Linked DNA regions of Homo sapiens. The protein of the gene in region 1 interacts with the protein of each later gene in a pairwise test. Each region holds a gene or a part of one and is shown in the gene's direction. Other genes may lie near its edges.

Evidence for each region. The genes of interacting proteins can lie anywhere in the genome.
Region 2: the proteins of OSR2 (region 1) and LIMS1 interact in a two-hybrid assay, tested with the Homo sapiens proteins (one large-scale study listed by BioGRID and IntAct).

The regions. Positions count from the first base shown.
Region 1 is NC_000008.11:98,942,967-98,947,241, forward strand, and holds the start of OSR2 (protein odd-skipped-related 2), read left to right. Parts: upstream 1-1,475; 5' UTR 1,476-1,857; intron 1,858-4,275. UniProt on the Homo sapiens protein: May be involved in the development of the mandibular molar tooth germ at the bud stage.
Region 2 is NC_000002.12:108,677,470-108,680,969, forward strand, and holds part of LIMS1 (LIM and senescent cell antigen-like-containing domain protein 1), read left to right. Parts: exon of another isoform or gene 1-22; intron 23-509; coding exon 510-558; intron 559-969; exon of another isoform or gene 970-1,132; intron 1,133-3,225; coding exon 3,226-3,301; intron 3,302-3,499; coding exon of another isoform or gene 3,500-3,500. UniProt on the Homo sapiens protein: Within the IPP (ILK-PINCH-PARVIN) complex, binds to F-actin, promoting F-actin bundling, a process required to generate force for actin cytoskeleton reorganization and subsequent dynamic cell adhesion events such as cell spreading and migration.

The DNA.
Region 1 (4,275 bases):
TCGAATCTCCGTTTCAAGCTCACTTTTTAATCTTTGCGAACTTAAAATTGGAAAGACAGAAAAAAAATCTGCGACCCCTGTTATGTTTTACCAAAGGAACGAAAAATTCTCTCCACCTCGGCATAAATAAAATAGAAAGAATTTTATCTTAATAAAATAATATCTGGGAGCTTCTGCTTGACTCCCCAATTACTGCTTAACCTTTTGACAGTTTTTAGCCTCTGCTTGTATTTATCTACTTCCCCGCACGATTGAGATTTTTTGAATTGTCCTTTGGGGCGTCTCATTCAAAACCATCTTTCGACGGAACACTTTTGAATTGTACAGCCTCTTGGTTGAAGATCTACGTCCTCAAAGTGCGGGCTTGCCGTGGAGTAACACAGATCCCCTCTGGCAACTCGTCTGGGACGAAGGGCGTTTTTGCTTAGTGTTGATCACGCAAATCACATCTGAAAAGAAGCTGCTTAAAATGGGTGTGTATCATTCCCTTCCTGTCACTCGGTCACCCCTATTCCAGAGAGGTTGAAGTGCTTTTTGCAGTTACACTCACACAAGACCAAACCTTTAGAAGGACCTGAAAAATGTATCACTGCACTTTGAATTCTATTAACTTTCCTGGAGACTGAACATTGAACTCAATTTTTGCTGGGAATGAAGATGTAAATGTTTTGAAAAACTAGAATCGCATTTTCCTAAATTTTAAAAATGATTGTTCTTCACCAATTCCAGATGGATTCTTTATTCTTTGCCAATGGGTTGCAGATGCCCACTGTTTTAACCAAGTTGGTTTACTGCGTATGAAATGAACATTTGCCGATTAAAGCTTAAATATTGGAAGAAATTTCTCCTGGGGCATTCCACGCGTCTTTGCAATAATTACTAAATTAGTCAATTGCCACCTCTGTAAACAAACTTCGTTTAGAAAACAGCAGGCGAAAGCAGACTACACATGTAGTCATAATTGACCAAAAGTATGTACAAAACTGTTTAAAATTGGGGAAAGAGTGATTTATGCTGGAGAATGCAGTCTAGACCTGAATTATTTTACTTTACGGTGAAGGTAGTTGTATTGAATGTGTTAAGATGTGCAAATTAAGCCGGCGAGCGAACCAAATAAAAATACTAAATGCCCTTTGGGATTCTCTGTGGAGTCTTTGAGAGGCAGAGAAGCAGTTGTTGAGTTTCTAATGGTATAAGGAAAAGTGGCAACGAGAAGAAAGGGGGTGGGTATTGTGTTTGTGTGTGAGTTTTGAACTGAGTCACCTACGGCTGCGTCTCTATAACAGGGAAACCTCGAGCAAACCTGTGCCTTTAAGACTCAGTTGCTATCCAAACAGAAGTAAACAGAGTGGACCATTAGCAGACGCCGGGCGCGGAGGCGGAGCCAGGGCGCTGAGGGCCCCGCGCGGCGGCGGGACGCCCGCCCGAAGGGGAGGCGGGGCCGCTACTAAAGCCCAAGACTCCCGGCCTGGGGCAGCCTGGGGAGGGACGCGGGCGGGGACGGAGCTCGGCGTGCTTGCTGCTGGAGGGTGATGGCCCTGCAAGGCTGTGGGCTCCGACCTCACCGGGAGTCGACAGCGAGAGGTTCGCCGAAGAGCGAGGTTCTGGGCGAGCGCTGAACGCCGGCCCCAAGCACCCCGGGTCTTTACACAGTCCGCGTCCACAGACTCTGACGAAGACGTGGATCTGCTCTCGCTTTAGCTGCTCGCGGTCCTCCAGATCATGTCCGCGACTCCTGCGACTCCGCGCGGAAAAAAAAGTTTGCCAGGCGTGGACTCAATGACCTTTCCAAGCTGTGCGCCTCGCTGCCTGGACCGGGTCTGAGCGCGGCTGCCCAGGTTGACCTTTCTGCGGGAGGTGAGTGTTCGCTCTGGGAAGGGGCTGTAGCTGCCCTTTGGAAGGAAGGGTTTGGGGGTGTAAGAGGCGTTCAGATTCTCGGTCTGGTGTGCCCCAAATTCAGATGTGAAAATAGATCATGGGGATGCAATCCCAGGGCACTGTATTTCTCACTTCCTTGGGTCCCTGGCACGCGACTCCCAGCTAACACCCAACCACACACATTTCTACATACTGTTTCTTAATTTTGTTTTGGGATATTTAATCTAAGCGGTCAGCAAGACTTCTTATAAAAGCTGGTCTACGTACACTGAGATCAAACCCCACAATCCCATGGTGTTTCTGCTCCTGCCCTAGCAAGCCTGGGTCGACTTGTCCCGGGGCAGCCGCGGCAGCGCAGCGTGGACGGGCCCGGACACCCGGTGCCTGCCCAGCCAGCGACGCTGAAGGCACATTTCAAGAGGGAAATAGTTCAGTCCTCGGTAATTTGTCAACCTCGTGCTGGCTTTAAAATTCTCCTCCCACCTTCTAGTCCTGACTGAGGGGGCCCAAAAGCAAACTCCCCGGGGGCTTAAACGCTCGGATTCCTGAGAAACGGCAAGTGAGAAAGGAGTTGCAGTTGTACGAAGAAGGAGCGAGGAAAAGGTGTTTGTGGAGGGAGCCCCGGATCTGTCTTCCTACCTGTTAGCCGAGAACAAAAGGGGGCTGGCGTTTCCCGAAGCGAAAGGGCGCAGACAGCCACTTTCTCTGCTAAACAAACTGCAGTCCTGGGCAGAACAAGAAAATTACTCACGCAGGGGGAGCAAGGGGAGCACAGAGAAACAGAACCTAGATTATGCGGAAGGCATCTTAATTTAATTAACTCCTTGGGAAGGCAGAGGCGCTCTGAAGGGGCAGGAACTTCGCAGCCGTTTCTCTATTCACCTGATACAGTCTGGCCCTAACAATCTGTCCTTTAACAATTTTTTTTCTTTTTAATGATCTTCTTTGATCTACTTAGTCTATAGCTCTCTAATTTATATAAAATTCTGCTGTGGTTTGGGCTGAAATTCAGTGAGCCTACCTATCCGACCATCAGTCATTTATCTCATATACCAGTGCACAGGTTTTAGCAGATGAACCCTGACTGTATATTATTTTTAGATAATTCAGTGTAATATTACCATTACCAAAGAGCGAAACTCCTTATCAAGTTACTTCTTAATTTTTTTCTCCAATGTTTTGAAAGCTTCACTGAACTGAAATAAGTGTGTACACATCTTCCTTGGTGACAGCCAGTCAAGTAAATTTTACAAAATTTCTCCACATGCCTGGAAATTCCTGTGAAGAAGACTGATGAAAGAAAAGTAGCCTCAGCTCCACCAACATATTTATGACTTTTCATTGGTTTAAGTTTCTTTCCTTGCAAGATTAAAAGTAACCAGTGGTCTGAAACGGGACGGTGGAGAAATGACAGCAGATGATGATCGCTGTTATTTCCTGAAAGGGAGTGTGGGAACTACAAGGCTCAGCTCTAGACAAAACGAAAGTACTTTAGGATCTCTGCATTCACTTAAAATACTTCTTTTGACATACATTTCCAGCAACTCAATGGGAGTGTGGAAATTTAACCTTCCTAATTATTTGTGGCAAGAGCCATTGGTGGATATTTAAGGTTGTTCTGTTTGTAAAAGGGTTTCAAAAGGACCAATGGTTTGCTCTTCCTCTATGAAGAAACTATCTGCCCTACAAATTAAAACAAACAGGTACTATGAAATAGCACTTTTTTTTTTTACTAACATGAACCTGAATTATATTAGTCGTTAATTTCTGTATTATAAACCATTCAGAGAAAAGGGAAAGAAGATGGCACTCAACTTTGTGGCAGTGTAACCTTTATGGCAGAGTTCGCTGTGCCTTTGGTATAGAAATCACAGGTCACAACAGTACTTTAGCCAACACCACTCCCCCACATGCCCGCTCCCCCCTCCCCAACGCATACACCCTGTGGTGGGAGTTGTGCTTTGCCTCCTGTATTTATTTCTAAGAAATCTAGTCTGGGAATACACCCAAATAATAATTTCGGTTTCCTCTCTATGGGAAAGAGGTTGCTTTTCAACACGAAGGGAAAAATAATATTTTGAATCTCTGGAAAATCCTCATTACGCAAAGAGAAGGAAATAAAGGTATAAATTATTATTTTTAATTGAAAGGGAAATAATCAGGTAGATTACCAGGAATGTTAGTAGAATCCTTTTCCCCTGCCTCCCTAAGAGACTTGCCACCGAGCAAAAATGAATCGTGATTTGTGGTGGGAAAGTTGATTACTAATGGGGGTTTGCAGTTGCGGTTGAATGGTCTGACTGAGACCCTCTGACTGTTACCCACCTCTCATTAACTCTTAGCCTGAACTCCCAGACCGCATACCACCAAGCAGAAGCGATTCGTTAATAAATCTCT
Region 2 (3,500 bases), on another chromosome or scaffold:
AATTACAATTTCCTTCCCTCCTCTGTAAGAAAGAAGCAATCTGTGGGCAATCATTTTATGACCATGGAAATGTCCTGTTCCTCATCAACCTGCCCTAGATTCAGCACCCCTTGATGATTCTTGTCTCTGCGCCAGCTGCAAACGACACTTCTCCAGCCCCATGCCCTCCACCCATAGTCTGGTCCTCAGCGCTCTGCCTGAGCAAGAACCCACCTCCTCTCCCGTCTATAGGTTTATTCATTTATCTATTTCTTATCCATATGGACTCACAGATTTCTATATTTTGCATCACTTATTTGGGTGTTCAAACTGTCATCTGGAAAGTTTTTCTTTTAATTGATGAGAGTGAATTACTTTCATTGTAAGAAGTAAAAACTTGTCAAAGAACTTTTACTAAATTTCTCTAGTAGTGATAAATCCTCAATTTAGATAGCCAGCTATTTTTAAATGTTCAGTGTTCTAAAAATTCTAACACATCTTGAACTTTGACCACCTTTTTTTATTTTCAGCTATTTGGTGATGTTTGCTTCCACTGCAATCGTGTTATAGAAGGTGATGGTAAGTATCTGTGTGAGTTTTAGATTGGTGCCACTTTGACACAAAAACACTTGGGTAATGTGGAAATTCAGGTTGGTGATTGTATGGTTTGAAATGTGATCGTTATCAGTTACTTTTTCTCTATCTTTGGCGTATTTTCCAAGTAATCTGTAGCAGTAAGATGATAATATCAAAGAGTTGGATTTGTTACTGATTTATGACACTACTTTCGGCCACTGCTGCAGTGTTGTATGCCAGCAATCATGGGAACTGTCCCTGGTGGACCCTAAGACCTGTTTGTGTCCAGTTTCAGGAAGCTCTAGAACAACGTTTATTAGGAACAGTTTAATCTGCTATCGTAGTTAGGAAGAGGCACTTTAACCTGCACATGCTAAAAGCTGGCAGTTATCAGCAAGCATATCTAGGACTTACCACCCTTGTACTGTGGTAATTAGGCTGGGCTGATTGATTGGAACAGAAAGGAAGCAGCTGTGTTTGCTAAGACTCGCTAACACACTTCTGCCAGAGACTTCCTGGCAAAGTTTTGAACAATCCTGTTTTCAGCATGATTCATGGCTCCCTGCAGACATCACCTAATTCAGGAAATACTTTTGAAACACTGTTCATGTGCAGTTTGTGAAAACAATCCAGGAAAACAATCTTTAGTGCCATTGAAAATAAAACTTACCTCCCTCCTCTGTGAAATAGATGCCAGGTGAAAGAAGCTGCAAAGGAAACTGTCTTCTTATCATCAGCTCTGGAAAAAAGACTCCTACAGGGGCAAATAAGTTAATGTCTGGATTTTTGAAAATTATTTACCTAGTTCATATTTCCATGTTGGGCCAACAGCAGTAGGGACAGAAACAGCAAGCTCACCTAAACAACATGGTGCATGGACAGTTGCCACATGTGCCCAGGCCAAGGGGGCACAGTTGCTGGTGTAAGACATGGCACACATCATTTATAACTTCACAGGATACTTAAGGATGGGGGAAGATTAAAGTCAGCCCTCCGTATCCAGGGGCTGGATCCAAACATCCGTGGATTCAACCAACTATGGATCAAAAATATTTAGAGAAAAATAACAATATAACAGTACAAATAGTACAGTATAATGACTATTTACATATCATTTACATTGTACTAGGCATTATAATTAACCTAGAGATGATCTAAAGTATACGAGATAGGACCAGGCTCAGTGGCTCACGCCTGTGATCCCAACACTTTGGGAGGCCAAGGCGGGCAGATCAACTGAGGTCAAGAGTTCAAGAGCAGTCTGGCCAACATGGTGAAACCCCATCTCTACTAAAAATACAAAAACTTAGCTGGGTGTGGTGGTGCATGCCTATGATCCCAGCTACTCGGGAGGCTGAGACAGGAGAATCACCTGAACCCGGGAGGCAGAGGTTGCTGTGAGCCAAGATCACACCATTGCACTCCAGCCTGGGCAACAAGAGCAAAAACTTCGTCTCAAAAAAAATAAATAAATGTATACAAGACAATGTACATAGGTTATATGCATTTTATATCAGGGACTTGAGCGTCTGAGATTTTGGTATCCTCACAGCATCCTAGAAACAGTATCCTGCACATACTGAGCAACAACTGTATACATAAAGGTTGAGGGCCGGGTGTGGTGGCTTATACCTGTAATCCCAGCACTTAAGGAGGCCGAGACAGGAGAATTTCTTGAGGCCAGGAGTTCGATACCAGCCTGGGCAACAGAGCAAGACCTCCATCTCTACAAAATAAAAAATTAGCCAGGTGTGGTAGCACACACCTATGGTCCCAGCTACACAGGAGAACGAGAGGAGAAGATTGCTTGAGCCCAGGAGTTCGAGCTGTGATCGCACCACTGCAATACAGCCTGGACAACAGAGCGAGACCCTGTCTGAAAAACAAAAGAAAAGAAGCTCTCAGGAAAGAGGTTCTTGGCTGGGCATGGTGGCTCATGCCTATAATCTCAGCATTTTGGGAGACCGAGGCAGGTAGATTGCTTGAGCCCAGGAGTTCAAGACCGTCCTGGGAAACATGGCAAGACCGTGTCTCTATAAAAAATACAAAAATTAGACAGGTATAGGCCGGGCGCAGTGGCTCACGCTTGTAATCCCAGCACTCTGGGAGGCCAAGACGGGCGGATCACAAGGTCAAGAGATTGAGACCATCTTGGCCAACATGGTGAAATCCCGTCTCTATTAAATACAAAAATTAGCTGGGCATGGTGGCACGCACCTGTAGTCCCAGCTACTTGGGAAAATGAGGCAGGAGAATCGCTTGAACCCAGGAGGCGGAGGTTGCAGTGAGCCGTGATTGCGCCACTGCACTCCAGCCTGGCAACAGAGCGAGATTCCGTCTCAAAAAAAAAAAAAAAAAAAAAATTAGCCAGGTGTAGTGGCATGCACCTGTAGTCCCAGCTACTCAGGAGGCTGAGGTGGGAGGATCACTTGAGCCTGGGAGGTTGGGGTTACAGTGAGCCAAGATTGTGCCACTGTACTCCAGCCTGGGCTATAGAGCAAGACCCTGTCTCATTTAAAAAAAAAAAAAAAAAAAAAAAAGGTTCTTGAGAACCTCCACCAAGTGCCACAGACACAGTCGTAGTTCTGTTTTGGAGTTGAAATTCTAAGCTGCCCTGCTCCCCATACTGATGTATTTCCATGTGACCAGATCTCTTTCCTCTTTCTCCAGTGGTCTCTGCTCTTAATAAGGCCTGGTGCGTGAACTGCTTTGCCTGTTCTACCTGCAACACTAAATTAACACTCAAGTAAGTGTACGGTTTTGTCCAGTGTGAATCCTAAGACTGAAAACTTTGGGGAGACACTTAAAAAAAATCCTAGAATTTAGAAAAAGAGAATTATTTGATTTCTTATTTCCTCTTTCTGTTCAGGCCTTCTGAAAGTAAAGGTTCTTCCTTTAACTGTTCCCTGTTCTTTCTTCTATTCCTTCTTTGTCCTACTCAAAGG